Homo sapiens: one gene and its partners. The protein of the gene in region 1 interacts with the protein of each later gene in a pairwise test. Each region holds a gene or a part of one and is shown in the gene's direction. Other genes may lie near its edges. The genes, in order: CNKSR1, CYTH3 and CYTH2.

What was found.
Region 2: the proteins of CNKSR1 (region 1) and CYTH3 interact in binary tests that used the Homo sapiens proteins (3 or more experiments, as listed by UniProt).
Region 3: the proteins of CNKSR1 (region 1) and CYTH2 interact in binary tests that used the Homo sapiens proteins (3 or more experiments, as listed by UniProt).

Annotation. Positions count from the first base shown.
Region 1 is NC_000001.11:26,178,283-26,187,490, forward strand, and holds part of CNKSR1 (connector enhancer of kinase suppressor of ras 1), read left to right. Parts: intron 1-2,170; coding exon 2,171-2,328; intron 2,329-2,432; coding exon 2,433-2,614; intron 2,615-3,574; coding exon 3,575-3,659; intron 3,660-4,078; coding exon 4,079-4,120; intron 4,121-4,197; coding exon 4,198-4,302; intron 4,303-4,914; coding exon 4,915-4,974; intron 4,975-5,063; coding exon 5,064-5,132; coding exon of another isoform or gene 5,133-5,153; intron 5,154-5,446; coding exon 5,447-5,548; intron 5,549-5,788; coding exon 5,789-5,859; intron 5,860-5,931; coding exon 5,932-6,005; intron 6,006-6,118; coding exon 6,119-6,225; intron 6,226-6,302; coding exon 6,303-6,330; intron 6,331-6,731; coding exon 6,732-6,904; intron 6,905-8,885; coding exon 8,886-8,959; intron 8,960-9,128; coding exon 9,129-9,200; intron 9,201-9,208. UniProt on the Homo sapiens protein: May function as an adapter protein or regulator of Ras signaling pathways.
Region 2 is NC_000007.14:6,260,730-6,271,461, reverse strand, and holds part of CYTH3 (cytohesin-3), read left to right. Parts: intron 1-10,732. UniProt on the Homo sapiens protein: Promotes guanine-nucleotide exchange on ARF1 and ARF6. Promotes the activation of ARF factors through replacement of GDP with GTP. Plays a role in the epithelial polarization.
Region 3 is NC_000019.10:48,464,541-48,476,100, forward strand, and holds the start of CYTH2 (cytohesin-2), read left to right. Parts: upstream 1-4,828; 5' UTR 4,829-4,967; coding exon 4,968-4,986; exon of another isoform or gene 4,987-4,993; intron 4,994-5,098; exon of another isoform or gene 5,099-5,418; coding exon of another isoform or gene 5,419-5,503; intron 5,504-5,812; coding exon 5,813-5,960; intron 5,961-6,062; coding exon 6,063-6,129; intron 6,130-7,784; coding exon 7,785-7,903; intron 7,904-8,757; coding exon 8,758-8,838; intron 8,839-9,364; coding exon 9,365-9,477; intron 9,478-9,641; coding exon 9,642-9,790; intron 9,791-10,297; coding exon 10,298-10,409; intron 10,410-11,560. Other genes in the region: KCNJ14 (ATP-sensitive inward rectifier potassium channel 14), read left to right, coding at 1-237. UniProt on the Homo sapiens protein: Acts as a guanine-nucleotide exchange factor (GEF). Promotes guanine-nucleotide exchange on ARF1, ARF3 and ARF6. Activates ARF factors through replacement of GDP with GTP.

The DNA of each region.
Region 1 (9,208 bases):
CTGACACACAGAGCCAGGAAATGATTTGCTCAGTCTCTGGTGTCATTTTCCCCGCTCCACACCCTGAGCTCCTAGTGACAGAAGCAGAAGCCCTAGGCCAGACTGAAGAGGTTGACACAGCCCCACCCTGGGGCTCCTATCCAAGGGGCAAGGTGCTGTCCAGGCTCAGCGAGCCCACACAGATGGGAAGCAACACACCCCACAGGCAGACTCAGAGAAGGAAGGGCCTCCTGACACACAGTGCGACCAGGAGCAGGCAGTCAGGACACCCCTCCCAGAGTGGGGAGCTGGAGCGCACTAGAGACAGGCTCAGGAGGACCAGCCCGGGTAAGGGCAGGAATTCAGGGCTGGGTTCAGACTCCCAGGCTGGATTCCAGGCCCACCCCCACCGCTTGCCAGCTCTGTGACCATAGGTCTTAGTTTTTCTGTCCATCAAATGGGAAAGGCAACTCTGACCTTATGAAGTCGACAAAGTGAGACAATCATGACATAGTTCATTTGTAGCTCAATGCCTGGGTCTATTGGGAGGGCACCAGCCCAATACAGTCACCGTGCAGGAAGGAGGTGGCTCAGGGGCCCATAGCCAGGGAGTGATAGGTTCATGAACTCCCAGTCCAGTGCTCTCAATGTGACACAGGGAACACACACACACACCTCCCCCAGTGAAGGAGCCTGGCTTAGAAGGGGAAGAATTCCTTCGAAGAGTGAGCAAGCTACTTAACCTCTGTGTCAGTTTTCCCATCTGTAAGCAGGATAATGATAGTCTTTACCTCCTAGAAATGCAGTGAGAATCAAATGTGTTAATATGTGTAAAGCTCTTATAGATTTGCATAGCACATAGTAAGCCCTCAATAGACACTTTTCTTATTTTTCAGTGCCTACCTTGTCCAGGCACAGGCCGGGGGTTAGAGACAAATGGTTATCTAAGGCCTGATCTTTGAAGAGCCTGTGATAAAATGGGAAAGACCGATGGTCAAGTGCAGGGGTTTGTGGAGGCTCAGGGGCAGTGGGAACAAGAGGAGAGCCCTCCATCCCACTCAGCCTGGGAAGTTATGGAAGGCTTCCTGGAGGAAGTTAGATGAAAAAGGAAGTGAAGGAGATAGAAGAGCAACGCCAGCAGGAGGAATAGCACTTGCAAGGACGCTGAGGTAAAAGGGTGTTCCAGGAGCTGCAAGGAATTAGCTCTGTGCATCTGAAATGTTGAGTTTAGGGGGCTCTTCAGGATATGATGCTGGAAAGGGAGGTAGTAGCCTAATCATACAGGGCCTGTAGGTCATGGTAAAGTCTGGCAATAATAATATGATGGCTATTATTGGCTGTCTCCCACGAACCAGACAGTGGCCAAGGCCTTGACATATGTTGTGTCATTCAATACACACATGATTAGAAGGTAGGTACTTTTATTATTCTCACATTACAGGTGAGAAAACTGGGCACAGAGCAGTGCTATTACTTGCTCAAGTGTTCACAGTGTCTCAGTGACTCCATAGCCTCTTGTTCTTATCCCCTGTATCATTAGTTCTCAAACTTAAGGGAGCATCACAGTCACCTGCATTAAAATACAAACTGCTGGCTGGGCGTCGTGGCTCACACCTGTAATTCTAGCACTTTCAGAGACTGAGGCAGTCAAATTGCTTGAGCCCAGGAGTTCGAGACTAGCCTGGGCAACATGGTGAAATCCCACCTCTGCAAAAAATACAAAAATTAGCTGGGTGTGGTGGTGTGTGCCTGTAGTCCCAGCTACTTGGGAGGCTGAGGTGGGAGGATGGATTGAGCCTAGGAGGTCAAGGCTGCAGTGAGCCGTGACTGTGTCTCAAGCCCCTGTCTCAAAAAGAAAAAACAAAACAAAAACAAAAAAAAGACTGCTGGGCCCCAACCTCAGAGTTTCTGATTCAGCAGGTGTGGGGTGAGGCCTGATAATTTGCATTTCTAACAAGTTCTCCGGTGAGTCTGCTGCTGCTGGTCTGGGGGCCACTTTTAAGAACCCATGTCCTATACTTTCCTGCTTCTCAACTCAGTGGCCTCATCTGTGAAATGGGCAGAACAGCCTGGGTGTCAGAGTTGTCATTAGGGTTAGACTAGAGGGAAAAGAGCTTTGCAGGCATGAAGAACCATCCCAAAAGGTCCTGACACCTCTGCTTCCCCGAGCTGAGCCTTACTCTCCCTCCAGGTCTTGACGACTCCCTGCAGGACTATCCCTTTGAGGACTGGCAGCTGCCTGGCAAGAACCTGCTCCAGCTCTGCCCCCAAAGCCTCGAGGCTCTGGCTGTGCGGTCTCTGGGACACCAGGAGCTCATCCTGGGCGGGGTGGAACAGCTCCAGGCCCTGGTGAGTGAATGCTGGTCACACTGGCTGCAGCTTCCACCAACCTGGGGGGTGTGATGGGGGGCTGGCTGCTGCCAGGGAGGTGACTTGCCCTCTTTCTGGCACAGAGCTCCAGGCTACAGACAGAGAACCTGCAAAGCCTGACAGAGGGACTTCTGGGGGCAACCCATGACTTCCAGAGCATAGTCCAAGGCTGCCTGGGGGACTGTGCCAAGACCCCTATTGATGTCCTCTGTGCAGCTGTGGAGCTGTTGCATGAAGCTGACGCCCTCCTCTTCTGGCTCAGCAGGTACCCGGGTTGGGGTGACGAGTGAGGGACTATTGTCATCCTTGGCCTCCTTCAGGGCGTGGGAGAGAAAAACAGATCTTGGCTCTTGTTCAGATATGGTGAGCCAGGCGTGGTGGCTTAGGTCTGTAATCCCAGCACTTTGGGAGGCCGAAGCGGGCAGATCACTTGAGGTCAGGAGTTGGAGACCAGCCTGGCCAACATGGTGAAACCCCATCTTTACCAAAAATATACAAAATTAGCCAGGTGTGGTGGTGCGCACCTGTAATCCCAGCTACTGGGGAGGCTGAGGCAGGAGAATCACTCAAACCTGGGAGGTGGAAGTTCCAGTGAGCCGAGATCATGCCACTGTACTCCAGCCTGGGCGACAGAGTGAGACTCCCTCTCAAAAAAAAAAAAAAAAAAAAAAAAGATATGGTGGAGCAGGGCAGAGGGATTAATCCACCTGTGCAGGGGCACTGGGATGCCAGAGTTCCCACCCCACCCTCCAGCTTGTAATAATCGATCTCATCAACAACCACTGAATGGAGAGCCTCCCCAACCCTGTGCACTGGCTGCTGCTTGTCCTACAGACCCCACCTCAAATGTCATCTCGGGGAAGCCTTCCCTGTTGTACACTCTCCAAGCTATACTATTAATAAATAATAAATAATAACTTATTATAAACTCATTATCCAATGTTTCATGATACTCATTACAGCCAAAGTTAAATTGATATTGATGTATGATGTCTTTACTGTCTGTTTCCCCAGTGCCTAGAACAGGGCTTGGCATGTGGTAGGCACATGACAAATAAGTCCTGTGCTAATCTCTTTAGATGTCTCAATCATCTCCTTTACTCTAAACCAAAACCCATCAGAGCAGGTATTATCCCCAAGTCTCTGAGGTGAGTAATTGGTGAGTAATTGGCTCTGAGTGGTTAAGCATAGTCCCTTAACCACTGTGCTATTCTTCCCCTGCCAGGTACCTCTTCTCCCACTTAAATGATTTCTCAGCATGCCAGGAGATCCGAGACTTGTTGGAGGAGCTGAGCCAGGTCTTGCATGAGGTAGGAGAACCAAGGGCCAGGCTTGGCCCATGCCCTAGAGACCAAGCTGGGCTAGAGCTTTTTATAACCTGTGAATCAGCCCAGGATCGAGTATGAGGATTGAGACGGGCGAGAAAGGAGGAGAGGAGGCCCTGCCACTGGGTATGGGACAATGGGGCCTGGGGTCCCCTAGCTGGCAGGGGAATTTTGACACTCAGGACAGGGAAGGAGGGGAGGGCACGTGTGGTGACTTCTGGGGGCCTGGTATCAGGGAAACGAGCCCTCTGGTTAAAACGCTGAGGCCCTGTGGTTCTGGGCAGGGGGCCAGTGTAGGGAAGGCAGGGAGGGACTGTACGGAATCCCACCCTGCCCCCAGGAGAAGGCAGTCCCCTTATGGCCCTTGCTCAGGGGAGGCCCCTGCTCTCTCATTCTACTTCCAGGATGGTCCAGCGGCTGAGAAGGAGGGCACAGTCCTGAGGATCGTGAGTCTGTGGGGTGGGAAGAGAGTGGGGGTAGGGGCGATCGGGCTCAGGCTACATAGCCCGCTCCCCTCCCCCAGTGCAGCCACGTGGCTGGGATCTGCCACAACATCCTGGTCTGCTGCCCCAAGGAGCTGCTGGAACAGAAGGCCGTGCTCGAGCAGGTGCAGCTGGACAGTCCATTGGTGAGCCCTGCCCTCCCACCTCTCACTTCTGACCCCTTGGCAGCCTTGTCTGGGCCCTGAAATAGGGTCCAGGATCCCACAGAACCCTGTGCTGCCATGGCTGGAAAGCCTTTTTTGTACAGATGCTAAAATGGAGGCCCAGAGGATTGGCCAGGGTCTCCCGTTGCTCTGCACCTCCCCAGTCCTGAGGGGCCACGCGGGTGTGGCCTCAGGTAGTGTGTTCCAGCCTTGGGATGGAGACGGGGCAGGGGCTTGGGGGCAGTTAGGAGAAAGGGAGAGGATGTGACCTTTCTTGGTTTAATCTTTGACCAGTGGGGAAGACCAGAGCCCTATCCCTGCCCTGTCCCTGCTTGTCCCTTTAGGAATGTTGCTGAGAAGCTGGTACCTCAGAAATCAGGGTCTCCAGCTTCCCTCTGGCTCTTAGCAGAGGAGAAGGCAGAGGCCCACAGGAGTAGCAAGTCCAAAGTCATACAGCAAGTCTGGGCAGGACCAGCTTGGGGTCAGCTCTTGCCACAGTTCCACCCACCATAGAGTCCTGGTGTCTGGCGGGGGTCCTGCCTATTGGCCCTGTTGCCCCCCAGCCCCCGGTGACTATAGCCTCTGCCTCTGCAGGGCCTAGAAATTCACACCACCAGCAATTGCCAGCACTTTGTGTCCCAAGTGGACACCCAGGTGAGAGCCCCACACCCTTCTCAGCCGCCCATCCCCGAGGCCTCTCACCTGCAAGCCAGGCCAACCTCAGGCCCCATTCCCCACGTCAGGTTCCCACTGACTCCCGACTGCAGATCCAGCCTGGAGACGAGGTTGTCCAGATCAACGAGCAGGTGGTGGTGCGTGAGGAGAGGGACATGGTAGGAGGTGAAGGGGTCACCGAGTGGAACCCAAGTCTGGTGGGTGGGGAGGCAACCAAGGGTTCTGACCAGGGTTGTGGGAGCTGCCTTCCAGGAGATGAGCCAGCTAAGTCTGGTGAGAGCATCCTCTGCAGAGCCCAGGTGATGGGGCCCATGGAAGCCCCCAGGAGGCTGCATGAGTGGGAGGCAGAAGTGGGAGGCTGAGAGAGAGCTCCCAGCACGAGGGTGAGAGTTGGTGGTTGCTTTAGAGCCTCCTGCCCAGGTTGATACCAGCCAGTGTTTCTGTCCCCCAGGTGGGATGGCCCCGTAAGAACATGGTGAGGGAACTGCTGCGGGAGCCAGCCGGACTCAGCTTAGTGCTGAAGAAGATCCCGATACCGGAGACCCCCCCACAGGTACCTTCCCCTGCCGCCCCCCGACCTGCCTTCAGACCCCCCCCTCCACAGGTACCTGCCCCCACCACCCCCACACCTGCCTTCAGACCCCCCCCAACAGGCACCTTCCCCTGCTGCGCCCCCCTAGCTCCCTTCAGACCCCCCCACAGGTACCTGCTCCTGCTGCTCCCCTACCCCTGTTGCCCCCCAACCTGCTTTCAGACCCCTGTCTCCATTGCTTTGTTCCTGGTTGTTCCCCAGACGCCCCCTCAGGTCCTGGACTCCCCGCACCAGAGGAGCCCATCACTGTCTCTGGCCCCACTGTCTCCCAGGTAACAGGCTCTGTCCAGGTGTGTCTTGGTGGGGAGACCGTGGGCTCATCTCATCCCCCTTGCCCTCCCCAGGGCCCCATCTGAAGACGTCTTTGCCTTTGACCTGTCTTCAAACCCCAGTCCCGGACCCAGCCCTGCCTGGACAGGTAGTCTCAAAGCTCCATGGATGCCCCGGACACGGCATCTGGGCACCCAGTTCTGACCCCAAGCCTGGGACTGGGCTCATAGACTTTCCCTCTCTCTCCTCCCTCCCTGACAGACTCTGCCTCCCTTGGCCCTGAGCCCCTGCCCATCCCCCCGGAACCCCCAGCCATACTCCCAGCAGGGGTAGCAGGGACTCCAGGGCTCCCTGAATCCCCTGACAAGGTAAGCTCAGGGGCTTAGCAAGGGGGTGGGTGGGTCTGGACCTAGATCCTTCTCTCACCCTTCTGCTGTCCTTTCAGAGTCCTGTTGGTCGGAAGAAATCAAAAGGTATGAGGTGCGCTGGACTAGGTGGGGGTTCCCCTGTTTGAGGAGCTGTTAAAAATCTTTACATGCTGGGCAAGACCACCCCCATCCTTCCCACACAGCCTCTCCTGGAAACAGCTCTGTTTCTAGGGTCAGACAGAGCTGTGCTCCCAGTCTGGGCCTCTCACCAGACTAGAGGCTAACCTGTTTGCTGTGACTGAGCAAACAGGTTAGCCTCTAGTCTTCAGTTTGCTCATCTCTAAAATAAGAAGGGTCATCCCACCTCAGAGATGACACATGTAGCATTCTGAGCAGAGTGTGGGTTCAGAGATCTCACTTGGGGATGCTTGTGGAAGGCAGGGAGTAGGTTTAGCGGGGGCACCTTGCCAGCCCCTCACTGCCCAGCTTGTGCTGTGCTGCTACAGGCCTGGCGACCCGGCTGAGCCGCCGGCGGGTGTCATGCCGTGAGCTGGGCCGGCCGGACTGTGACGGCTGGCTCCTGTTGCGAAAGGCACCGGGCGGCTTCATGGGCCCGCGCTGGCGCCGCCGCTGGTTTGTGCTCAAGGGACACACGCTCTACTGGTACCGCCAGCCCCAGGTAAGACCCCATACACAAAAACAGGTAGGCAAGTGAGTCACTTCCAGGCCTCGATTCTCATCTCTATTCTATCATCCACTCTTATTCCTGGTCCAAGGCTTTGATGTCCCCATCTGTAAAATGGGGACTTTATTCAGAGAGAAATGAGTTAATATATGTATAAAAGCAGTTTGGAAAAGGTATCATAGGAGGTATAGAGAAAAATCTTTTTTTTTTTTTTTTTGGAGACAAAGTCTCACTCTGTTGCCCAGGCCGGAGTGCAGTGGCATCATCTCGGCTCACTGCAAGCTCTACCTTCCGGGTTCACGCCATTCTCCTGCCTCAGCCTCCCGAGCAGCTGGAACTACAGGCGCCCGCCACAACGCCCAGCATATTTTTTGTGTTTTTAGTAGAGACAGGGTTTCACCGTGTTAGCCAGGATGGTCTCGATCTCCTGACCTCGTGATCCACCTGCCTCGGCCTCCCAAAGTGCTGGGATTACAGGCGTGAGCCACCACACCCGGCCCTGAAAAATCTGGGCAACATAGCAAGATGGAGTCTTGCTATGTTGCCCAGCCTTGTCTCAAACTCCTGGGCTCAAGCGTTCTGCCTGCTTCAGCCCGCCAGAATGCTGGGATTATAGGCGTGAGCCACCACATCTGGCCGAAAAATCACGTCTATTCTGCCCACTTCTCCTTATCCTTCTGATATTCTGTCCATCCGAATGATGGGCCATTCATTTACTCATTTATTCATTCAGGATTCAGGTGCCTACTGTGAACCCAGCTCTAGGCTGGGCACTATGGACACAGAGAAGAATTGGATGATTTTTGCTTCTCCAGAACTTAGAGGCTAGTAGGGGAGAGGGATGAATACACACTCAAGGACAATGTAGGGACCGTGTGCTAAGATAAAGGGAAAGCCCAAGGGATATGTGGGAGCACAGCAGAGGTGTCCAGTCCATCCTGAGGAGTCCAGATGCCCCCTGACAATGCAATACCTGGCAGTTAGTTGCATGGGAAGGGGAAAGAAAACCAGGAAGAGAAAGCAGCATTCAGAAAGCTCAGGGGTGTGAAGCAGTTTGGTTTGTGTCTACTGAAGGAACAAATGCATGAGCAAGCTCTTCTTGTTTGGTTTTTTGGTTTTTGTTTTTGAGACAGAGTCTTGCTTTGTCACCCAGGCTGGAGGGCAGTGGCATGATCTCAGCTCACTACAGCCTCAGCCTCCCAGGTTCAAGCGATCCTCCTGCCTCAGCCTCCTGAGTAGCTGGGACTACAGGCACATGCCACCATGCCTAGCTAAGTTTTTTGTTTGTTTTGTTTTGTTTGAGACGCAGTCTCGCTCTGTTGCCCAGGCTGGAGTGCAGTGGCGCAATCGCAGCTCATGGCAACCTTTTCCTCCCAGGTTCGAGCAATTCTCCTACTTCAGCCTCCCGAGTAGCTGGGATTACAGGCACCTGCCACCATGCCTGGCTAATTTTTTGTATTTTTAGTAGAGATGGGGTTTCACCATGTTGGCCAGGCTGGTCTCGAACTCCTGACCTCATGATCTGCCCGCCTCAGCCTCCCAAAGTGCTGGGATTACAGGTGTGAGCCACCACACCCGACCTAAGTTTTTAATTTTTTGTAGAAATGGGCTTTTTTCCCAGTCTGGTCTCAAACTCCTAGGCTCAAATGGTCCTCCTGCCTTGGCCTCCCAAAGTGCTGGGATTACAGGCATGAGCCACCATGCCCGGCCTTCAGGCTCCTCTTTTTTTTTTTTTTGGCTGTTTCTCTGATATCTTTGGCTCCCCTTTCCTGGCTTAGAGGCATCCTTTGGCCACATCTCCTACCCTGACCCCAGATTCCAGCCCTGAGCTCCAGAAACAGAGAGACTTGTTAGAGAGCCCAGGAGATGCCTTCTCCTCTCCACAACTCTCAGGAGCCCGAGGGGTAACTAGGAGCTGACTGGGCCTTGAGGGTATTGGGGTTCCAACCTGACCCTCATGCTGTGATCCCCCCAGGATGAGAAGGCTGAGGGCCTCATCAATGTCTCCAACTATAGTCTGGAAAGTGGACATGATCAGAAGAAGAAATAGTTAAGTCTTGGGGTGTGATGGGCTGGGGGATGGAGACAGAAAGGGAGAGGAAGGGTGATGGGGTAGCAGTGGGAGGTGTGGCAAGTGGCTGGGGCGCCCAGAATCCAGCCTCTCTGGGCTGTGGGTGGGCACGCCCAGGCTGAGTGATGCTCCTCCACTACCTGGCAGTGTGTTTCAGCTCACCCATGATGTGTACAAACCCTTCATCTTCGCTGCTGATACCCTGACAGATCTGAGCATGTGAGTGC
Region 2 (10,732 bases), on another chromosome or scaffold:
AGAGAAATCATCAGAATCATCAGAACCCCATGTAATAAGGGAGCAGTTTAGAGAAATCTTAATTACAGGCTGCCGGTGCAGCTGCCTGTAAGAATCAGCAGTATTGAATGCTTCAGGATGAAGTGGTTCATCATCAAGGTGCCTTCCAGAATTCAAGTGCTGCTCAGAGGGAGATGTTTTTTTGCTGAAAGACGCGATGCAGCCAGGATGGTGGGAAGTTGGCACCCGTCATGGCATTTGGCGAGTTCAGTTCTTATAGTTGAAGCTAGGGGTAGCACTGTGGCACCGAGTGGGTGTGTTGATGGGAGCGCTGTGGAACGAAGGCGCCCAGTTGCGAACCCTCCTACAGTCAGGCTGTCTGGAGCCATGAGATCCTAAGGAATGGGTTCCCGGTGGATGTCGTGTTTCCTGCCTGTCACAATTTGGGCATAGCTGTTTTCCCTTGTTAGAAAAGAAAGACAACTGTAATATGCAGACGTTGGACATTAGCGTCAAGGCAGCTAGCTGGCTTGGCAGTTTTGTTTGTAAGGTGCTTTGGGCTCTGTGAGTAAAGAAATGTAGACTTGAAGATTAAAGCAGGAATAAAGAGGAAAAGAGGAGGCTTTAATGTGCTCCAGCAATTTGCAGGTCTTGAGTACTATAACAAAGGATGATATGAAGTATCAAAAGTCTTAAAATTGTCCTTGGGTTGTTAGTATCTCTTCTGGGAATATATCACAGGGAAGCAACCTTGAAATAAACCCCTCACGTATAAAGATGTGTATTATGCTGTTTAAAATAGCAAAAAATTGGAAACAGCAACGCCAACAGCAGGGGCATGGTGAGGTAAATTATGGGAAGTTTATTGAAGTATTTTACAACCATTAAAATAAGCAGTTTTATACATCATGGTTTAAACAACATAAACATTGGTGACATTATGGATTATTTTATTTTCTTTTTATATTTTCCAGGTTTCTGGAATAAGTGTGTATTTCAGATTGGAAAAAAACCATCAAAGACGTGAATGTTTTAAGTGTATCATTTAATTCATCTCACTGGAACATTCAACAATGAAGATTTATTTATTGATTGCCCATCAAAATGCTAGCCAGCATGTTAGGTGCTGGAAAATAACTTTTAACCTTTATTGATTTAGTTTATGACTAGCTTTCTCCCTTGCTTTGTGACAGACACTTAAAAATATTTTTGGCAATATTAGGATATTTATTTTTGAAACAGGTGAAAAGCAAAGTTTTGAAATATGAGTGATATTGTAATTATTGTATAAACTTTATGTGCTTACATTTAACTCTTGGCTGTTGTAAGTTTTGAAGTTAACATACCTCTTTACAGTTAATACCTTTTAGATTTTTAAATGCTTTAAAATTCATGTTTAAAAAAATAAAGTTGAGCTCTTTTAAAGAAAACCGTTTCAGCTGCCAGCAGATTATAAAGCATAACATTTTTTGGTATATTTTTAGAGTGTAGTACATAATGTTGAACTGTATCTGGGGGAGTCAGTTAAAGCTTGTTTAAAAGATAGGGTAAATAATCTATTCAAACAGTAGTTATGGTAGAAGCCAAAGATAATTGAAAAGGTCTTTTTTTTGTTAATGGTCAGGTTAAAAGACTTGAAAAATTGATTCCTACTTGCTATTTTTATAAGTTAATTTAGCTTTTTGTCCACTGTATTGTTCTTTCAATGCAAGATAAGGAGAGAGAGGATGGTGGCATGAATGGCTGGAAGGCAGTTACAAGAGGAGCGAGTGGGGGGCACAAGATTACAAGAACACATTGTTCCTTACAGTGTGTGCAGAGTGTAGTTAAGTCGTTTTTAATTCCTATGGGACTTTGTTGCCTTTCAGTTTTTCGAGAACAGTTCTTGAGCTAATTGGAGGGTAGCTGGCTAGTTTGGCTCATTGGGATTGTCTTCGTGTCCTGTTTGGGCATTTGTCTGATTGATGGTCCTGAATGGACCATCCCTGGCAGATGAGGTGAATTAACTATAATTGGCATTCTTCTCTCTGACCCCTTCACTCCCTGATCAATGTAGGTGTCTGTGCTTCAGGTGAAGAGATGCTGAGCCTTGTTCATAATAAAATACATGCAAATTAAGACTAGATTGAGCTCCCACCTTTCACCTTCAGACAGGTGATAACCCCCAAGTATACAAAGTCTGTTTCAAGTTTGAAATATTTGAACGGCAAGGTCGTTTCAAACATTTACGGGTAAGAGTGTAAAGTAGCCACAGGCAGGGTCAGCCCATGTCCTGTTGGCTCAGATCCGTTTCTTGCCCTTTCCCTGCAGGGACTCACCCCTGCAGGCAACATTTCCCAGGCCCTTGGTCAGCTGGCTTCCGGCTGGGATTGGCCACTGGGAGCCACTGGCAGGAGGAATGGCAGGAAGAAGGACAAAAACAGGTTATTTCCCTTAGGCCTGCCTCAGGGAGTGTCTCTGGCAGGTACCTTGTCTCCTTTTGGCTCCAGCTCCTGCCCCTTGGTCCTAGCCTTTGAGTCTTGGAAATACCTCCTCCCTTTTACCCTCTATTTGAGAAGTGGTAACAGCAGCTTGCTCTTGATAATCTTTGTATTATCATTTCCTGTTTGGCTTTTCAGTTTTTCCATCACCCCTGTCACTAATTCCTTATATTAAATTCCCTCTATATCAGATTCTTAAAGGGATGGTTTCTCTGGATGTCTCTGTTTCTCTGGGTGGACCCTGATAGATACAGGTGCTTTAGGCAGTAGCTTTAAAAATTACAGGCGTGTAAATCCTTTGACCCAGCAATCCAGTTCTAGGAATTTAACCTGCAGATATATTTGTACACGTGTGAGATAACATAGGTACAAGATTATTTATTGCCTTGAGTGTCCATCAGCAAGCAAGAGACTTATCAGATAAATCCATGCCCAGATGGTTAATGAGGTTGTAAAGTTGTAGAAAGGAACGAGGAAGCTCTTTTCTTAGTTGACATGGAGAGATCTCCAAAATATCTTAAGTTACAAGAGCAGGCCGGGCGCGGCGGCTCTCACCTATAATCCTAGCACTTTGGGAGGCCGAGGCGGGTGGATCATTTGAGGTCAGGAATTCAAGACCAGCCTGGGCAGCATGGTGAAACTCCGTTTCTACTAAAAAAATACAAAAATTAGCCGGGAGTGGTGGTGCGTGCCTGTAATCTCAGCTACGCGGGAGGCTGAGGCAGGAGAATCGCTTGAGCCTGGGAGGTGCAGGTTGCGGTGAGTGAGATTGCGCCACTGCATTCCAGTCTGGGCAACAGAGTGAGACCCTGTCTCAAAAAAACAAAACAAAATTACAAGAGCAAAGTGTAGGAAAGTGTGCATTGCGTGCTCCCATTCTTGTGTTTTGAAAGAGGAGGTAATGGCTGATGCATGCAGATTCCCTGGAAGGTGAAAGGAGGAACCAATAACAATGGTTACCTGATTGGGGAAGATGATGGGAACTGAGTGGATGGGGAATATAGGTGGGAAGGAAACTTTTCACTATGCGCCTTTTTATTTTTTGAAATTCAAAAAAGTTTGAATAATCTGTCTTCACTTTTTCTAAAATTGGAAAGCAGTTTCATAGAAAAATAGTATGATGGTAAGAAAATACCCATTTTACACCTTTTTTGAGGGAATTTTTATAGATTAAAAAATACAGCTGGGCGCAATGGCTCACGCCTGTAATCCCAGCACTTTGGGAGGCCAAGGCGGGTAGATCATGAGGTCAGGAGTTCGAGACCAGTCTGGCCAATGTGGTGAAACCCCGTCTCTACTAAAAATACAAAAATTAGCCGGGCATAGTGATGCGCACCTGTAGTCCCAGCTGCTCGAGAGGCTGAGGCAGGAGAATTGCTTGAACCCTGGAGGCAGAGGTTGCAATGAGCCGAGATAGCGCCACTGCCTGGCGACAGAGTGAGACTCGGTCTCAAAACAAACAAACAAAATATTCTGGGAAGACCGCAACAAAAAGATAATGTGATATGCAATGTAAGGTTATAAAATGTTACCTATTTTTCATTCTGTAGTAAGTTAACTACTGTATTTTTGAGAGTTTAAAAAGTGGATGCTTTTAGATTATGCTTAGAGTATATTCTTTTGTAGTCATTTACTCAAATGTTGATGGTGTCTCTACCAAATACCAGGTTCTATGCATGGCACAAGAGCTATTAGTGCCTGTGTCATGCCGTTTTTGCATTGCTATAAAGAAGTACCTGAGCCTGGGTTATATATAAAGGAAAGAGGTTTCATGGACTCATGGTTGTGCAGGCTGTAGCTGTACAGGCATGGTGCCAGCATCTGCTCGGCTCCTGGGGAGGCCTCAGGGAGCTTTTTACTCATAATGGAAGGTGAAGCAGGATCAGGCACATCACATGGCTAGAGCAGGAGCAAGAGGGAAGAGATGCCACGCCCTTAAACGACCAGATCTCAGGAGTCCTCACTCACTATTGCAAGGGCAGCACTGAGCCATGAGGGATCTGCCTCCATGATCCTGTCGCCTCCCCTCCAAGTCCTGCCTCCAGCATTGGGGATTACAGTTCAACATGAGATTTGGGCGGGGCATATATCCAAACTGTATCAGTGCCTAACAGTGGTGAATACGGCAGATAAATTTCCCACGTTCATGGAGCTCATGTTTAGATGGAGAGACAGACAAAAGAGGTAAACAGCTATATATAAAATAATCATGTATTATGCTAGATGTGTTAAAGGAAATCAACAAGAGGTTGAGGAAGAGAAAGTGTGGGATGGGAGAGGTGTAGGGAAAGCCCGTGGCCAGGGAAGGCCTCTGAGGAAATGCCCTTCGAGGTGCAATCTATAGGGGTAGTGGACCAGACAGAAGGGAAGGCATGGAGCTGGCAAGAGCTGAGTATTCTAGAGAATTAAAAGCAGCTTTGTGTGGCTTGAACAGACAGTGAAGCGGGAGAGATAGACTGGGGCCATGTCAGGCTTTCAGTAGCTAAGGAATGCAGATTTTATTCTAAGTACATGAAGCCGCTGAAAGATTTTTAAACGGGGAAATCTCATTTGATTTACATTTCAATAATTTTAGCTAATATTTACTTGATGCTGTATGTCCTGTGTACTTTCTGCGTCTTAATTTATTGACTCTTCATCATATTGCTATTTTCAGATTGGAAAATGGAGGCATAGGGAAGCTAAGTAATTGGTCTGAAATTTCACAGCTAGCAGGTGATGGAGCTGTGATTGGAACCCAAGCCTTCCATTTCAGAATCCGTATTCTCAACCACTGCCCCCTGCTTTTTAAAGAAGCATATTCTTGACTCCTGAGTGGAGAGTGGTTTGGAGGAGAAGGGAGGACTTGGGAGAAGGGAGGTGTTGCAGTGGTTCAGGTGAGAGTTACGGGGCTTGGTGGGTTAGGGTGGTAGTGGGAAATATGGAGGGAAGGATATATATAAAACACATCTGTATAAAACATACAGAAAAGTACAAAGAATAATGAAACCAGCACTCTTGTTCCCACTACTCAGAATTGACATAATAGCTGTCAATGTTCTGTTGCATTTTTTAGGTCCGTTTTTTAAAAAATAAAGCATTACTGGTAAGTCTCTCCATCTCAGTATATTGTGGTGTTCTTCCAGTTGCTCAGGCCAAAATTTTGGTGCCATCTTTCACTTCTTTTGCCTTAAGCCTTCTCATGGTTCTCCCATTGTCATCCTTGTTCACACTGCAGCCAGGGCGATTCCCTTTGACACGCAGGTCATGTCACTCCTCTCTGAAAGTTTGCTCTTTCCTCGGTTTATTGAGAATCCTATTCTCAGACCACCTTACCATGGCCATGGCCCACACGCTGTAGTTTAGGGGCTGCAAGTTCTTCTTCTTCTTTTTTTTTTTTTTTTTGAAATGGAGTCTTGCTCTGTCACCTGGGCTGGAGTGCAGTGGAGCGATCTCGGCTCACTGCAACATCCGCTTCCTGGGCTCAAGTGATTCTCCTGCCTCAGCCTCCTGAGTAGCTGGGACTACAGGCGCGTGCCACCATGCCCGGCTAATTTTTTGTAATTTTTTTTTTTTAATAGATACGGGTTTCACCATATTGGCCAGGCTGGTCTTGAACTCCTGACCTCGTGATCTGCCTGCCTTGGCCTCCCAAAGTGCTGGGATTACAGGCATGAGCCACCACGCCCAGCCAAGCTTTTTTTTCATAAAAGGGCCGGATAGTAAACCTCATAGGCTTTGTGGGCCACATATGATCTCTGTCACAAGTCTTTTTTTTTTTCATAACCTTTTCAATATGTAAAAAACATTCTGACCTTGGGGACTGCCCTTGACTACTACTCTAGTCCCCTGCTATCTCTTTGACATTGTCTGTTGCTCCTCTCCCGTTTCCTCCCTGACTCTGCTCTGTCTCATTGGTCTCCTTGCCAAGCACACTCCTGCCTCAGTGCCTGTGCACTTGCTGCCCCTGTAGTGGTTTCCTCTTAGATACCTGCATGTGGTGTATCCTTGCTTCATTCAAGTTTGTGCTCAAATGTTTCCTTATCACAGAAGTCTTCCTTGACCAACCTATCTAAAATCACATTCATTGTTACTGTCAGCTCTATTTTTCTCCCTTAGCACATGTCACGCCTTACCTATTACATATTTGTTTCTTTTCTCTTACAATGTGAGTTCTGTGAAAGTAAGAATATTTTCTGCTTTTATCCAGTTATATCTCCAAGATCTAGAACAGTGCTTGGTACATAGTAGCCTTTCAGTAAATATTTGTTAATAAATACTGAATAAAGTTGAAGTCACTTGTGTCTAGCAATCCCTGGTCCTTTTGCTCTTTGCTTTCAATGTTTCTTAGAGGCAGCCATTATGAATTCGATATGGGGCCCTCTGGTGTATGGTGTTTTTGTTAGTTTTTTGAGATGGAGTCTCACTCTGTCACCCAGGCTGGAGTGCAGTGGTGTGATCGCAGCTCACTGCAATCTCCATCTCCTGGGTGCAAGCGATTCTTCTGCCTCAGCCTTCCGAGTAGCTGGGATTACAGGCAGGCGCCACCACACCCAGCTAATTTTTGTAATTTTACTAGAGACAGTGTCTCACCTTGTTGGCTAGGCTGCTCTCGAACTCCTGACCGCAAATGATCCACCCGCTTTGGCCTCCCAAAGTGCTTGGATTGCAGGCATGAGCCACCGTGCCCAGCCTGGTATATATTTCATACTTCAACAGATGTGCGTGTGCCTCTGTAAGCAATGTACAGGTCTCCTTTTTGTTTTTTTTTCTTTTGAGACGGAGTTTTGCCCTTGTTGCCCAGGCTGGAGTGCAATGGAGCCATCTTGGCTCACTGCAACCTCCGCTTCCTGGATTCAAGCGATTCTTCTGCCTCACCCTCCTGAGTAGCTGGGATTACAGGTGCCCGCCATCATGCCCAGCTAATTTTTGCATTTTTAGTAGCGATGGGGTTTCACCATGTTGGCCAGGCTGGTCTTGAACTTCTGACCTCAGATGATCTGCCGGCCTCAGCCTCCCAAAGTGCTGGGATTACAGGTGTGAGCAACCGCACCCGGCCCTAATTGGTTTTAAAAAGATTATAAAGCCGAGATCACACTGTATGTAATCTTCTGCAGCTTGCATTAGAGATTATCCTTGTGATTATATATAGACCTTGTTTAATTTAACTGCGATCACGTTTTGTCTATCTTGTCCTGTGTTGAACTTTTTTTTTTTTTTTCCTGAAGTTAGTGTCCTCACTCTGTTTCCCAGGCTGGAGTGCAGTGGTGTGATCTTGGCTCATTGAAACCTCTACCTCCCAGGTTCAAGCGATTCTTCTGCCTTAACCACTTGAGTGGCTGGGATTACAGGCTTGCAACACCATGCCCTGGTAAATTTTTAGTATTTTTAGTAGAGACAGGTTTTTGCTACGTTGGCCAGGCTGGTCTTGAACTCCTGACCTCAAGTGATCCGCCTGCCTCGGCCTTCCAAATTCTGGGATTACAGGTGTGAGCCACCGGGCCTAGCCCTGTGTTCAACTTTTTAATGTCAATGTTACACTGGTGGTGTTACAAACGGTACTGAGGTGAGCTCCCTAGTCTTCTCTCCCCTCACAAATGTGAGTTTATCTAGAGTATATTTCTAGAATTGCAGTTGTGAGTTATAGGCATGCTTCAGTTTTAATAGATAACAGATTGCTTTCTCATTAGGGGCTTGTGAGTAGTGTGATTTCCCAGCATTCTAATCAGCACACAGTGTTTGCCTTACTTTTAAATATTTACCTATCTCATGGGTAAGAAATGATGTATTGCTTTAATTTGTGTTGCTTTATAGTGACAAAATATATATTTTAAAAGCTGTTATATTAGGTTCAGGGGTACATGTGAAGGTTTCTCGTAAGTGAGCTCTTGTTATGGGATGGAATGTATTTTGGAGAATCAGATGGACATACTGTCAGCTTGGAGAAGGTTAGAGGTATAGAAACTGTAGGAATCAAATATGACTTTAGGTTTCTGGCTTGGTAGTGGTGTTGCTTAATGAACAGGGGAAAAAACTATTGTGAGGGTTCATTTTTTTTTTTGGTCAAAAATGCCTTTACTTTGCCTCCACTTAAACACAATTTTTTTATTAGAGTCGCGCTCTGTTGCCCAGGCTGGAGAGCAGTGACGCCATCATAGCTCACTGCAGCCTTGAACTCCTGGGCTCAAGCAGTCCTCCTGCCTCAGCCTCCCGAGTAGCTAGGACTACAGGCATGTGCCACTGTGCTAAGCTTGCCTCTGTTTTTGAAGGATAGTTTCATCAGGATTATAGTTGGAGGCTTTCAAGTTAATTTATTGCAGTTTTTAATTTTTTGTAAAGATGGGAGGTCTCACTATGTTGCTCAGGCTGGTGTTGAACTACTGGCCTCAAGTGATCCAAAGTGTTGGGATTACAGGCATCAGCCATTGAGCCTGGCCTTCCTACAGTGTTTTGAAGGGGTAGTTTTACTGCTTTCTGGCTTCCACTGATTCTGTGGAGAAGTCAGCTGCATCAGTCTTATTGTCACTCTTTTCCAGTTAGTGTGTTTTTTCTTCCCTTTAGGCTGCTTTTAAGATGTTCTCTTTGGGTTTGGTTTTCAGCTGTTATGTGGTGTGTCCAGATGTGGTTTTCCTCAAGTGTATCCTGCTTGGGATTAGTTGTTCTTTTTCTTCTCTTTGGCAGTGCTGTGACAAAGCTTGATCTTAAATTAGATTTACAGAATTCTTGTTCATTATCTCTTCATTGATTGCTTCTGCTGCATTTCCTGTCTCATCTCCTTCCAGGACTGTAATTACCTGTGCATTAAACATGCCCTCTGTGTCGTGTCCTGTATGTCTTAGATTCTTTTCTGTGTCCTTTATCCCTTTGCCTCTCCATCGTTCACTCTGTATCTTCTTCTGACTTATATTCCATTGTAGTAATCCTTTCTTCAGCTGTAATTGCTGTTGAACTCGTTTATTGAGTTCCTAATTTCCATTATTGTCTTTTCCAGTTTTCTTGATTTTTTTTAAAGATTCCAATTTTCTGCTGGCATTTTTTATCTTGTCAACTGCTTTATTGTATGAATCAGAGTTATTTTAAAGTCTGTGTCTGATAACTCCGATATTTGGATGCCTTGTAAGTGTGTTCTGTTGTCTGTTTTATCCTTGGTTTTCAGTCATGTGATCTTGATTCTAGATATGCCTGTTGAGCTTTAATTAAATTCTGGACAATGTATGTGAAAAATTATAGAGATAATTCAAGACCCTGCCTGTTGGCTTCATTTGAGGATTTGGCAGGCAGTTAAAGTAAGGGAATATCACTTTGCCCTTTTTTTTTTTTTTTTTTTTTTTTTTGAGACAGGGTCTCACTCTGTCGCCTAAGCTGAAGCACAGTCAGGCTCAAATGATCCTATGATCCTCCTACCTCAGCCTCCCAAGTAGCTGGGACTACAGGCACATGCCACCATGCCCAGCTAATTATTTTTTATTTTTGTAGAGCCAGGGTCCCACTATGTTTCCCAGACTGGTCTTGAACTCCTGGCCTCAAATGATCTGCCTGCCTCAGCCTCCAAAGGTGCTGGGATTACAGGCCTGAGCCACCTCACCTGGCCGGAATATCACTTTAAAATTATGAGGCATGGTCTATTCTGGTTTACCCTTCTTCTAGGTTATAGCCTTTAGTGGTTCCCACTGAAAGCTTGGGTTGCTTCCCAGGGCCTCTTCTACTTGGCAGCCCCTGAACTCTAATTTTTGTCCCCTCAGTCCCCTAAGACTGGTGGCTATTCTGCTGACCTTCTTGGATTCTCAGTCACTTGTTTCTGTTTGGTATTTTGGCTTCCCAGCTTCTGCTGTGAATTGGCGAATCCCTCAAGGAGAAAAGGGGCCCCGGTGATTGGGCTCACTTTTCTGCACTCCCCTTTTCCCTCTGGAATCCTGGCCTCCAGAGTCCTCACTGCATGGGTAGCTCTCTGATGCCTTCAAACAGTTGTTTCTAATAATTTGTTCAGTTTTTTAAGTTGTTCTTGGCAGAAATGTTGGTCTGCAGTGAGCTAGTCAGCTTTACTGGAAGCAGACTCTCAGGAATTCAATTTTGCTATTTAAAATGGACTTGTTAGTGAGATATCCTGGTGGAGATGGTAGGTAGGCAGTTGGCTGTGTCAGTCTGCTGCTCAGAAGACTAATTTGGGTAGGAGATAAACATTGGGGAGATTTTAATTCATGCGGGTGGAAGAGCTCACATAGGAAAGAGAGTTGAGAGAGGAGAAAAATCCTAGGACTGAGGACAGCACAGCAAAGGGGACTGGGAGGGTAACC
Region 3 (11,560 bases), on another chromosome or scaffold:
CCGGTCTGCAGTGCTAAGGAGCTGGATGAACGGGCAGAGCAGGCTTCCCACAGCCTCAAGTCTAGTTTCCCCGGCTCTCTGACTGCATTTTGTTATGAGAATGAACTTGCTCTGAGCTGCTGCCAGGAGGAAGATGAGGACGATGAGACTGAGGAAGGGAATGGGGTGGAAACAGAAGATGGGGCTGCTAGCCCCCGAGTTCTCACACCAACCCTGGCGCTGACCCTGCCTCCATGATGCAAACTGATGTCCCCTTCCCCGTGTATGCCCCCTTCCCCAAGGTAGCAAGATGGAGGGATGGGGCTCTCTCCTGGGATGGGGGCAGGTGTTCCTGAATACCGACAGGCCTGCTGGGTAAATGACTAGGTGGTAAGGTTCTGCCATGCCTGGTGACCCACCATGGACATACTGGACCTTAATTCCTCTGCTTCTGTGCTCCCTCCTGAGAACCCTTTATGAGCCTGATTCCTCAGTCTCACCAGAATTCTGGATCACCCAAGAGGAAAAGACTGGCAGTTCTAGATTCCTCTATATGGGGAGACCTGGATTGTTGACCAGGGTGAGAAGCCAATGGTATAGACTGCCTCTGGGGAAGCAAGTTGGCAGTTCTTGAACAGCATCAGATATCAAGAGTTTGTAGGTCTGGATTCACCTAAGATTCAAGGGAGTGTTGCTTCTCAACTCAGCCAACTGAGTAGCAAATCATTTGTTCTAGACCACCTAAGGAGGGAAGGTTATGGAATGCCCCAAGTATTCAAGATCATCTTGATTGACCAAAGACCAAAAAAAAAAAAAAGACCTGTGGTTCCAGAAAGCTCATTAGTTGAGATTCTGTGAGTCTAGGTTGACCACAGAGGCAAGCACTGGTGAGTCTAGGACAGATTTTACGTGGAGAGTTGAACTACTCCAGAAACTAAAGAGTAATGTTTCTAGAATGCACAAAACATTGTTAGTCTGTGGGTTTAGAAAGACTGAAGTGACAGATTAAGAGTTCTTGATATTAGATAACTCCAACTTCTGGCTGTAGAGCACCCAGCCAAGAGAATAAGCAGTGCTTTGAAAGGATCCACTGGGTGGGTTGTTTTTTTTTAAAGTGCCATTCTAGAATGTCCAAAGGGAATCAGGATTCTGTGGCTGTAGACTGATCACAGAGTCAAGGAAGCAGTGGCAATTCTAGATATCTGAGATTTTGCTGGTTCCAGTTTGCCCAATGGAGTTGAGAATCTCAATGATTCTAGATGACTTCTTGTGGTTCTGTAATGCCAAAAGGAATGAAGGCTCCAGGGATACAGAGTTGTCCATTACCAAAGCCTGGAAGTTCTCATCACCTCCAGGTGGACTGCTTGGCAGTGCTAGGAGGTGGACTCAGGACTTCAGAAGCAACATTTCTGGCCTGACCTGGAAGGTGAAGGTGAAGGTGAGACCCTGTAGGGCACAGGGCTAATTAGTGGACAAGGGAAGGGGGAGGCCCAGGGCTGGTGAGTCTAGAATGCTCTGGAACCCTACACCTAGTGATGTGTGTCTATTTCTTTTTCTTTTTCTTTTTTTTTTTTTTTTGAGACTGAGTCTCGCTCTGCCGCCCAGGCTGGAGTGCAATGGCGTGATCTCAGCTCACTGCAACCTCCGCCTCCCGGCTTCAAGTGTTTCTCCTGCCTCAGTCTCCTGAGTCGCTGGGATTACAGGCATGAGCCACTATGCCTGGCTAATTTTTGTATTTTTAGTAGAGACGGGGTTTCGCCATGTTGGCGAGGTTGGTCTTGAACTCCCGACCTCAGATGATCCACCTGCCTCGGTCTCCCAAAGTGCTGGGATTACGGGTGTGAGCCACCATGCCCAGCCGTGTGTCTGTTTCTTAAAGATATTATACATATGTATATTATATATATGTAATATAAATACAGATATCTATCTATTTTTTCCCTTGGTCCCTACAACAGGCTTAGAGATGGAGTGCTAGCTAATTGGAATGAGGTCCTTTTCAAGGACCCCAGAAGCTTTGCTCTAAATCCCAATGCTGCCCCAACTTACTGTGTCACTTTGGACTCCTCTTCATGTCAGTTTCCCCATCTGTAAAAACGGGATATTGGAACTTGAAGTTCTTCAGGGGCCTTTCCAGCAGGATGAGTCCTCACTACACCAAGGGTGGGATGGGCATTCGAGTCCTGGGGATTTCCCTCCTCTCCCCAGTGCTGGATCATACGGCCTTCCAGGAGACGCTGGGATGTAAGATACTCTTGGAGGCTGGCTCTGAACTCGGGTGTCTGAATCACAGGGCAAGGGTAGGCGTGGGCTGTGGCTAACAGCCAGAGTCACTTCCCTGGCCTAGCTTGGGGACCTGGGGAGGAGGAGGTAGCTCTGGACACCAGGGTTCTTCCCATTGTGGGAGAGTGAGTGTTTTAGGGGGAGACCTGTCCCCCAGATTAAAGAACTGGGAGCCCTAGCGGATGTGTCTGCGAATGTGTTTCTCGAGCATGGGTCCTCCGACCTGGCCCCCTGCCCATGCTACCATCTACCTAAGTGCCCCGCAGGCTGGGAGCCAACTGCAGAGGGAGCCAGTGACAGTGAGGAGGACGTGTTCCCACCCCGTGTTCTGGACCGAGGGCAGCCACTGTCATTGCCATTCAGCCTTCACAAGTGCTGCATCAACCCAAATGCCCCCTCCAGCTTCTCCATCTCCCTTTATCCCTCAGAATCCCCATGTAATAACCGGATGGGATTAATTAGCTGGCTGCTCTCTCAGCTCAGGGTGTCTGGGGTAGGTAGGGATGGGGGCAATGGAAACGCAGGGTTGGGGAAGGATGTTAAGTTGGAAGTGAAGGGGCAGGGAGGGGGTTTCGTTTGAAAGGAGTATGGGAGCAGGGCAGCCCAGCCTGGGTTTCCACTGGGGAGGGCAGGGCCTGGGCCACTCATAAAGGTCAGTGAGGGGATTAGGAGCCTCCATGTCTAATCCGACAGCTTAACTAGGTCCTGGCCCTGAATCCGTCTCCACCTGCCCAGCCCAGGGACAGCAAATGAGGACGAGGCCCAGACACCACTTCAGCCCCCATTACGGCTTCCCTCTTTACAGGGGTGCCTGGGTTCCCTATTCCAGCCAGTCCCTTGACCACATTCCGTTACAAATAATGGGACATAGAGGCTGGGGAAGGGGAAGGGGAAGGGGCCTCAGAGGAGGGAGGAGTTTAAGAAGGGCAAGGGTGGCTGGGCACGGTGGCTCACGCCTATGGGCACGGTGGCTCACGCCTAGCACTTTGGGAGGCTGAGGCGGGTGGATCACCTGAGGTCAGGAGTTTGAGACCAGCCTGGCCAACATGGCGAAACCCCGTCTCTACTAAAAATACAAAAATTAGCCGGGCATGGTGGTGGGCGCCTATAATCCCAGCTCCTTGGGAGGCTGAGGTAGGAGTATCGCGTCAACCTTGTGGGTGGAGGTTGCAGTGAGCTGAGATCATGCCAGTTCATTCCAGACTGGGCAAAAGAGCAAAACTCTGTCTCAAAAAAAAAAAAAAAAAAAAAAAGGGCAAGAGTATGAGAGGACAAGGGGGACCGTGACGTGAGGGGAGCCAGAGAGGAAAAAAGGCCTCTGAGATGGGAGAAGGAATCAGAGAGGTGGGAGGATGCTGAGGAAAGGGGAGTTGTCTTAGCAGGAGGATGCTTGGGGAAGGGAGGAGTCTTAGGAGGATGCTAAGCTAAAGGAAGGAGTTTGGAGAAATGAGGGAGGAGTCTGAGCGGCAGAAGGTGCCAGGAAGGCCGAGCCTGTGCTTTCACTAAATTTCACCTTCCCCTGTTCCATTCCCCATGACCGATACCAAATAGCATAGCATTTAGAAAAAAGTAAATCTTGGCCAGGCGCGGTGGCTCACGCCTGTAACCCCAGCACTTTGGAGGGCCAAGGTGGGCGGATCATGAGGTCAGGAGTTCGAGACCAGCTTGGCCAACATGGTGAAACGCCCGTCTCTATTAAAAATACAAAAAATAGCCAGGCATGCACCATCATGGTGCAACCCTGTAATCCCAGCTACTCGGGAGGCTGAGGCAGGAGAATTGCTTGAACCCGGGAGGCGGAGGTTGCAGTGAACCGAGATCGCGCAACTGCACTCCAGCTTGGGCGACAGAGCAAGACTCTGTCTCAAAAAAAAAAAAAAAAGAAAAAACGAAGAAGTCTTTTGTTTCACCACTCCACGACTCCGAAGAGGCTGAGGGGGATGGGGAGGGCATAGATGGTGATAAAGAAGGAGTTCGGCGGTAAGAAGGGGCTGAGAGGAGGGGAAATACGCGGAGAAGAAATGCAAAAGAAAAGGAGGCCTAAAGCCGCTCCCGGTTGCATGGCAACCTTTGCGGTCAGAAGCCAGCATGGCCTGCTAGGAGGTGTGGCTTACGGAAACAAGCCAGTTCTAGCCCCGCCTCCTAGCAACAAGACTAACAAAGTACCGCCCCCTAGCAACGTATTATCGGAGGCGGGGCTCGGTTTACCTAGACTCCAAGTGTCCAGGGCCTTTGAGCAGGCGCAGAGGTGGCTGTACCGCGTGGCTCCGCCTCCGCGCGACACTTTTCCGGGGCTTCTCATTGGAGAGCAAGCCTGTCAAGTGCTTTCTGTTGTTTCGGAGGCGGGGCCTGCTGCCCTGCCTGCACTCCGATTGGCCCCGCGGGCCGTCTACCTCTGGCCGGACATACCTACACCGGCTTTTTGTACGACTGTTGGCCCTGGAGAACGATCCTTTGGTGGCGAGGGCGGGGAGGACGAAAGCGCCCACTGTGGATTGGACAGTGTCAAAAAGAGGGGCGGTCCCTACTGAAGGGGCGGTTGGGCGACGAAGGGAAGAGTCTTTTCAGCGCTGAGGACTGGCGCTGAGGAGGCGGCGGTGGCTCCCGGGGCGTTTGAGCGGGCTCACCCGAGCCCGCGGGCCAACGCGGATCCAGGCCCGACTGGCGGGACCGCCCCGGATTCCCCGCGGGCCTTCCTAGCCGCCATGGAGGACGGCGTCTATGGTAGGTCGGGGAGGGGCGGGGTCGGCTGGGAGTTGCTGGAGCGTTTTCTCCTGAACGTTCCGCCGCGAACGTTTCCCCCTGGCGCGCGGCGCCCAGAAGCGTTCGGCTCAGTCGTAGACTTGTCGCGCCGCTTTTGTTGGGCGCTGGACGGGCTTCCGGCGGGGCCCGAAAGCCGGGCGTTCCAGGCCATTGTTTGGGCTGAGCCTGTTTCCGGTGGCGGCGGGAGGGGCGGGATGGAGTGGTGGAGGCGAGGCCGGGGCGGAACCATTCCCGCTGGAGGGGCGGGCGAGCCCAGCGCCTGCCGGGGCCGGGGAGGGGCGCTTGGGTTGCGGGGAGGGGAGAAATCTTGGGGGGCGGGGGCCTTCGATGTCCCGCCCCACCTTCCCAACTCTCCTGAGCTGTCATCAGTTCCCCCGGCTGTAGTGACTTTTCATGGACCCAGTAGTCCGGATAACCAGGTCCCCAGCTACCTCGCCAGTAATGGAGTCAGAAAACCAAGGCCTCAGTCCCCTTCCAAGTAATGGACCTAGAAGCCGAGGCCCCCAGCCCTTTCTTCCCTCAGATCTAAGAGCTCAGGCACCCATTCCCCTTCTCCCTCAGACTCAGGAATCCGGGCCCCAATTCCCCTTGTCCCCCAGGACTCAAGAGTTTAGAGCCCCAGCTCTTTCTCCTCTGCAGGGAGGAATCCAGGCCCCCAGCCCATTCTTCTGTGCAGACATAGGAAGCCCCTTACACATCCTCTCCCAGCTCTGTCCGCCCCCAGATTGCAGGAATTCAGGCTCACGGCCCCTAGCACTGACTTTTAAACCTTGACCCCGATCCCTAGAACCCCCAGACCTGACTCCGGAGGAGCGGATGGAGCTGGAGAACATCCGGCGGCGGAAGCAGGAGCTGCTGGTGGAGATTCAGCGCCTGCGGGAGGAGCTCAGTGAAGCCATGAGCGAGGTGGAGGGGCTGGAGGCCAATGAGGGCAGGTGAGGGCTGGGGCGGATGACCTAGGGGGCGTGGGGTTGGCTGAGGCCAGGGATGCCCAGGCATTGACCCTCCACCCCCAACCCTGCTCTCTGCTCCTGCAGTAAGACCTTGCAACGGAACCGGAAGATGGCAATGGGCAGGAAGAAGTTCAACATGGACCCCAAGAAGGTGCTTGGGGCCACAGGACTGGGATCAGCTGGGCAAACATCCAGGCAGGGGCTTCTGGCACCTCCGGGTTCCAGAAGCGTGATGGTGCCGGGTCTATTCTAGGTGGACAGACTTGGTCCTAATCCCTGGATTCAGATACTGGCTGTCCATTTGTTTTCTGAACACTGAACACTGACCAAGTGTTCCAGCCCTCCTGACTGTTTTGTCCCCTGCCTGGAAGGTCGTCTTCCACTTTCTACTTGTATGGGCGCATTTCTGGTCCCAAGATGAGCTCGAGTCTTGTAGGGGCTGTGGACAAAGTGACATGCACAAAGGAGAGTTGACCTCTCTCCCACAAAGGTGCCGTGACGGAGGAAGGTATCAGGGTAGTGGACCTCTGGAGGAGGCAGGCTGGTGGAGTCAGGGAGGGCTTCCTTGAGGAGGAGACATTCAGGTCGGGTTTGAAGGATGAGTAGGTGTTCACCAGGTGGAGGAAAGGCTTTTGTTCACCTACTCTTTGTGTGTGTGTGTGAGACAGAGTCTTGCTCTATCACCCAGGCTGGAGTGCAGCGATGTGATCTCGGCTCACTAACCTCCGCCTCCTGCGATTCTCCTGCCTCAGCCTCCCAAGTAGCTGGGCTTACAGGCTCCCACCACCATGCCCAGCTAATTTTTGTATTTTTAGTACAGATGGGGTTTCACCATGTTGGCCAGGCTGCTTCCAAACTCCTGACGTCAGGTGATCCGCCCGCCTCAGCCTCCCAAAGTGTTGGGATTACAGGCATGAGCCACCGTGCCTGGCCTGTTCACATACTCATTTAACACCCATTTTCTGAGGCCTCTCAAGAGTCTGATCCTGTGTAGGGCAATGCTGGGGACCCAAAGAAGAATTAGATGCTGCCTTGTGCTCAGAGAGCCCTTGGACACCGATACCACAGTTCACAGTGAGATAAAGCAGTAGTAGAGAGGTCTTCGTAGCACAGAGAGTGAGAGAAACCTCCAGTCTAGCCAGGGCTTCGAGTTCACAGCCCTTGAAGGACTGCGTCTGCTAACAGGTTGTCACGTTATTCTTTCCTGAAGCAATTGGAATTCTGTTCAGTCATTCAACAAACATTGATTGGCTGGGTTCGGTGGCTTATGCCTGTAATCCCAGTGCTTTGAGAGGCCGAGGAGGGAGGATTGCTTGAAGCCAGGAATTTGAGACCAGCCTGGGCAGCATAGTGATAACTCATCTCTAGAAAAAATATAAATAAATAAATTAGCCAGGTGTGTTGGGGCATGCCTATAGTCCCAGCTTCTGAGGAGGCCGAAGTGAGAGGATCCCTTGAGCCCAGCAGTTCGAAGCTGCAATGAGCTGTGATCACGCCACTGCACTCCAGTCTGCAATAGAGCGAGACCAGGTCTCAGAAAAAAGAGAAAATGTACTGAGCACCTGTGCCTTGCCAGACCCTGTTGTTGGTGCTGGAATTAACCAGGCAAAGGCAGAGAGGGTAGGCCATGAAGTGCAAAGGCCATGAGTTGGGAAGAATGCTATTTAAGACCTGTGAGAAGGCTGAAAATGAAACCTGGCCCTGGTCTGTTGAGGGTGGGGGTAGGTCTGGATGCTGAGGTTCCCAGGGAGGTGAGTGGGGTGGCTTTCTGGCCCTCAGCACTGAGACCTTGTCCCCACCCACCAGGGGATCCAGTTCTTGGTGGAGAATGAACTGCTGCAGAACACACCCGAGGAGATCGCCCGCTTCCTGTACAAGGGCGAGGGGCTGAACAAGACAGCCATCGGGGACTACCTGGGGGAGAGGTACGGTCACCACTCAGCTCCTGTGGGGCCCCTCCCTCCCACCCCCCAGACCCAGCTCCTGCCCTCACACTGGCAGCTCACAGGTGGAACAGCCCTGCAGCCTCCCCGCAGAGGGGCCCTGGCAGATCAGCCTTCTGACTGGACTGTGACAGAATGGACTGACATGGGCTAGGGGAGCCTGCGGCCAACCGAGAGCATCTGGGGATGTGGGGCCTTCTGGAATTACCTGGCAGTTGTGGGGAAGCATCCATTTATGTCTGAGAAGGGTAGAGAACATCTCTCAAGGATCATGGGAGCTTGAGAACCGTGGGTAGACCATGGCTGTGCATAGGCACTGGGTGGCCATCTGGGAGCTGTGGGGACCGCTGGGCCCTTGTGGGAGCTTAGGAGTTGTGGGGGTCATTTGGAAGCCTAGGGTGCACAGGACTGGACATCAGATGATTGGAGGCCATCTGTGGACGTCTGGGAATCAGGGATTTATAGAGATCTGGGGTGCTTGGGAAGCATCTCTGGATGTCTGGGGGATGTGGGGGCTGTGTCTGGATACCTGGGGAGCATGGGGATCATTTGAGAGAGGTGACAGTAGGTAGCATACATGTTTGCGGCATTTCTCCCAACTGTACAAAGGTCTGGCCTAAGCAGGGTTCCCAAGCCAGATATTCCTCCCAAGAGTGTGTTCTGAGCATCCCCCACCCTGGGGGCAGGCCTGTGTGGGAGTCCAGCAGGAAACTTCACCCTCGGCAGTGGGCAGCTGTGGTGCAGTAGAGGGGGCACGACTTCCCCAGGGCATTGCCCTTTGCCCATTCCTGCCCCATCCTTTCCAAACTGTATGTGTCTTTGTCCCATCCTTCCAGGGAAGAACTGAACCTGGCAGTGCTCCATGCTTTTGTGGATCTGCATGAGTTCACCGACCTCAATCTGGTGCAGGCCCTCAGGTGAGTGAGGGGGAGGGGTTTGGAACGCCAGGAATGTACCTGTCAGGGCCTTCCTAGTTACAAGTGACAAACCTTACTCAAGAAAAAAACAGAAACAAGCAAAACAGAAACAAAAACTAGGGAACTGAGTGTGTCCTGCACCATAAAAGTTCAGGGTTATGGCCTCCTTCAGGTATGGCTATATCCAGGAGCTCAAATGGTGGTCAGAAAGTCGACTTTCTTTGCCTCTTGTATTTGCCACTGTGTCAGCATTGCTCTCTGCAGACCCGCTTACCTGATAACAAGCCTCAACCAACCCCCAGACCTGTCTAGCGAACTTAGCAGAAAGAGGCTATTTCTGTAGGGATTCACAACACTCCCGTGGCCAATGCCCATTGGTGAGACTGGATCATGTGACCATACCTGAAACAACTGCTGAGGCCGGAAGGTCGGGATTCCTCGTGGACCAGTTCCTAACACAGGGACTGAGAGTGGGGACAGGCTCCCACCAGCCCTGGCATCCATTCCTGGCCCCTCCCCAACCCAGGCAGTTTCTATGGAGCTTTCGCCTACCCGGAGAGGCCCAGAAAATTGACCGGATGATGGAGGCCTTCGCCCAGCGATACTGCCTGTGCAACCCTGGGGTTTTCCAGTCCACAGGTGCGGGCCCCAAATCCTGGGTCCTGGGAAAGAGGAGACTGGGGCCCAGACTCCTAGGTCTGAGGGAGGGAGGGGGCTGGGAGCTGGGAATCCTGGGTCCTGGGGAATGGGGGCACTGGGGACTGACATGCCTGGGTCGTCACCACCTGCCCTGTCCGGTGCAGACACGTGCTATGTGCTGTCCTTCGCCGTCATCATGCTCAACACCAGTCTCCACAATCCCAATGTCCGGGACAAGCCGGGCCTGGAGCGCTTTGTGGCCATGAACCGGGGCATCAACGAGGGCGGGGACCTGCCTGAGGAGCTGCTCAGGGTCAGTCCCCCTTCCCTGCCCCTCAGCCCTGCCCCTCTTCCTGCCACAGACACCCCCGCCCCACCTGTGGTCTCCTAGTGCCCAAGCTGTCTGCCCTCACCCCCAAGATGGTGCGATCATGCCAACTCGTGTGTGATCTTTTTCTCTCTCTCTGGGTGCTTCTCTTCTTGACTGTCTCTCTCAGGCTTTGGCCCTGACAATTTTGGCCTGTCTGTCTTCTCTGTCTCTGGCTGTTGGGCTTTCCGGCCCTCGATTGGCCTCATTCCCCATCTGTCTGTTTCTCTGAGGACGTAGCCGGCTCCTCCACCTATCACCAGGGCATCTCTTCTTTCCTCCGCCACCTCAGCCTCCCTCCACTTCTCTGCCTTTCACTTCCCTCTCCTCCCCACTACCCCTCTCTCTTCCCCACTATGAGTCATCCCATCCCTGGTCTCGCTGCCCCCCACCCTGAGTAACCCTGGGGGGCCCCAGGGGGCTCGAATGGCTAATGCAGCCTTTACTCCTCAGAACCTGTACGACAGCATCCGAAATGAGCCCTTCAAGATTCCTGAGGATGACGGGAATGACCTGACCCACACCTTCTTCAACCCGGACCGGGAGGGCTGGCTCCTGAAGCTGGGTACGTGCCCTCCCGACCCCGCTGGTCCCTCCGCAGGAGGACATTTGTGGGCCTGGGCCCTGGACTCAGCTTCCGCACACACCTGCTGCCTGAACTGAGGCAAATGATTCGACCTCTCTGAACCTCAGTTTTCCACACCCAAAAAATGGGGCTGAAAATAAAATCAGGCCTGTGTGCTGGGCCTGGCCTGTAGTAAGTACTTCCCAACCCCTTCTCTTGACCCACAAATGTTGATGGAGCCCTTCTGTGCCAGGCCCTGAGCTGGGCTGAGGAGGCAGTGAGAGGCAGCTGACATTGTCCTTTCGTGGGAGAAGAGTTCACTCAGGCTTCTTTCCACTGCGTTAACCCAGCCCGAGGGAGCCAAACCCCTGGAATCTATTCCCCTTGGCAAGAACTCCCAGGGTTCCAGGCAGGACTGACCCCGCACTCCGAGGCATCAGGCCCAGAGCACTTGGCTGATCCAGGTGCCATCCTTCCCGAAACACCACCCACAGGCAGAAAAGAGCCAAACAGGCCAGGAAACCTGTCCCAGATTCTGGCTTCCAGCTGTGGAGGGAATAGCCAGGGCTGGTGCAGATGAGTCGGGAAACCCAGCAGAGATGGAGGGGGGAGTCTTCGTCATAACACGTGGCACTGGCACATTCAAGGTCGGTTAGCATGGATCAGACAGGATCGTAGCATGATGAGGGGTTAGCACAAGGACTAGAGTGGTTCTCAGCCCTGGCTGTACATGAGATTTGCCTGGGCAACTCGAAAACTCCGGTGGCTGGGCCATAGACTCCTGAAGTCAGGCTCTCAGGAGCAGAAGGGCCATCAGTCATCGTTTAAGCTCCTCGGGTGCTCCCAATGCATAGTCAAGGTTGAGAGCTACTGGCCTGGAGCCGTGCCTGGTAACAGTAGGTGCCACCTGCGTGTTAGATGTGGTTTATAATGGAGACACGGTGCACAGCTGCTCCAGAGAGACACATCTGGGCAGTTACAGTCCAGCACAGCAGTGGAGGCTTCCCGCGGCAGCAGGAGAGCCCACAGGAAGCTTTCAGCTCAGTGAAGGGAGTCAAGGTCAGGCTTCTTGGAAGGAGGTTGGACAGGGCAGCTTTGGCCTCTGAGTCTTGGGGGCCTCCCCATGTGGAACTGTGCTCTTAAACCAGGGC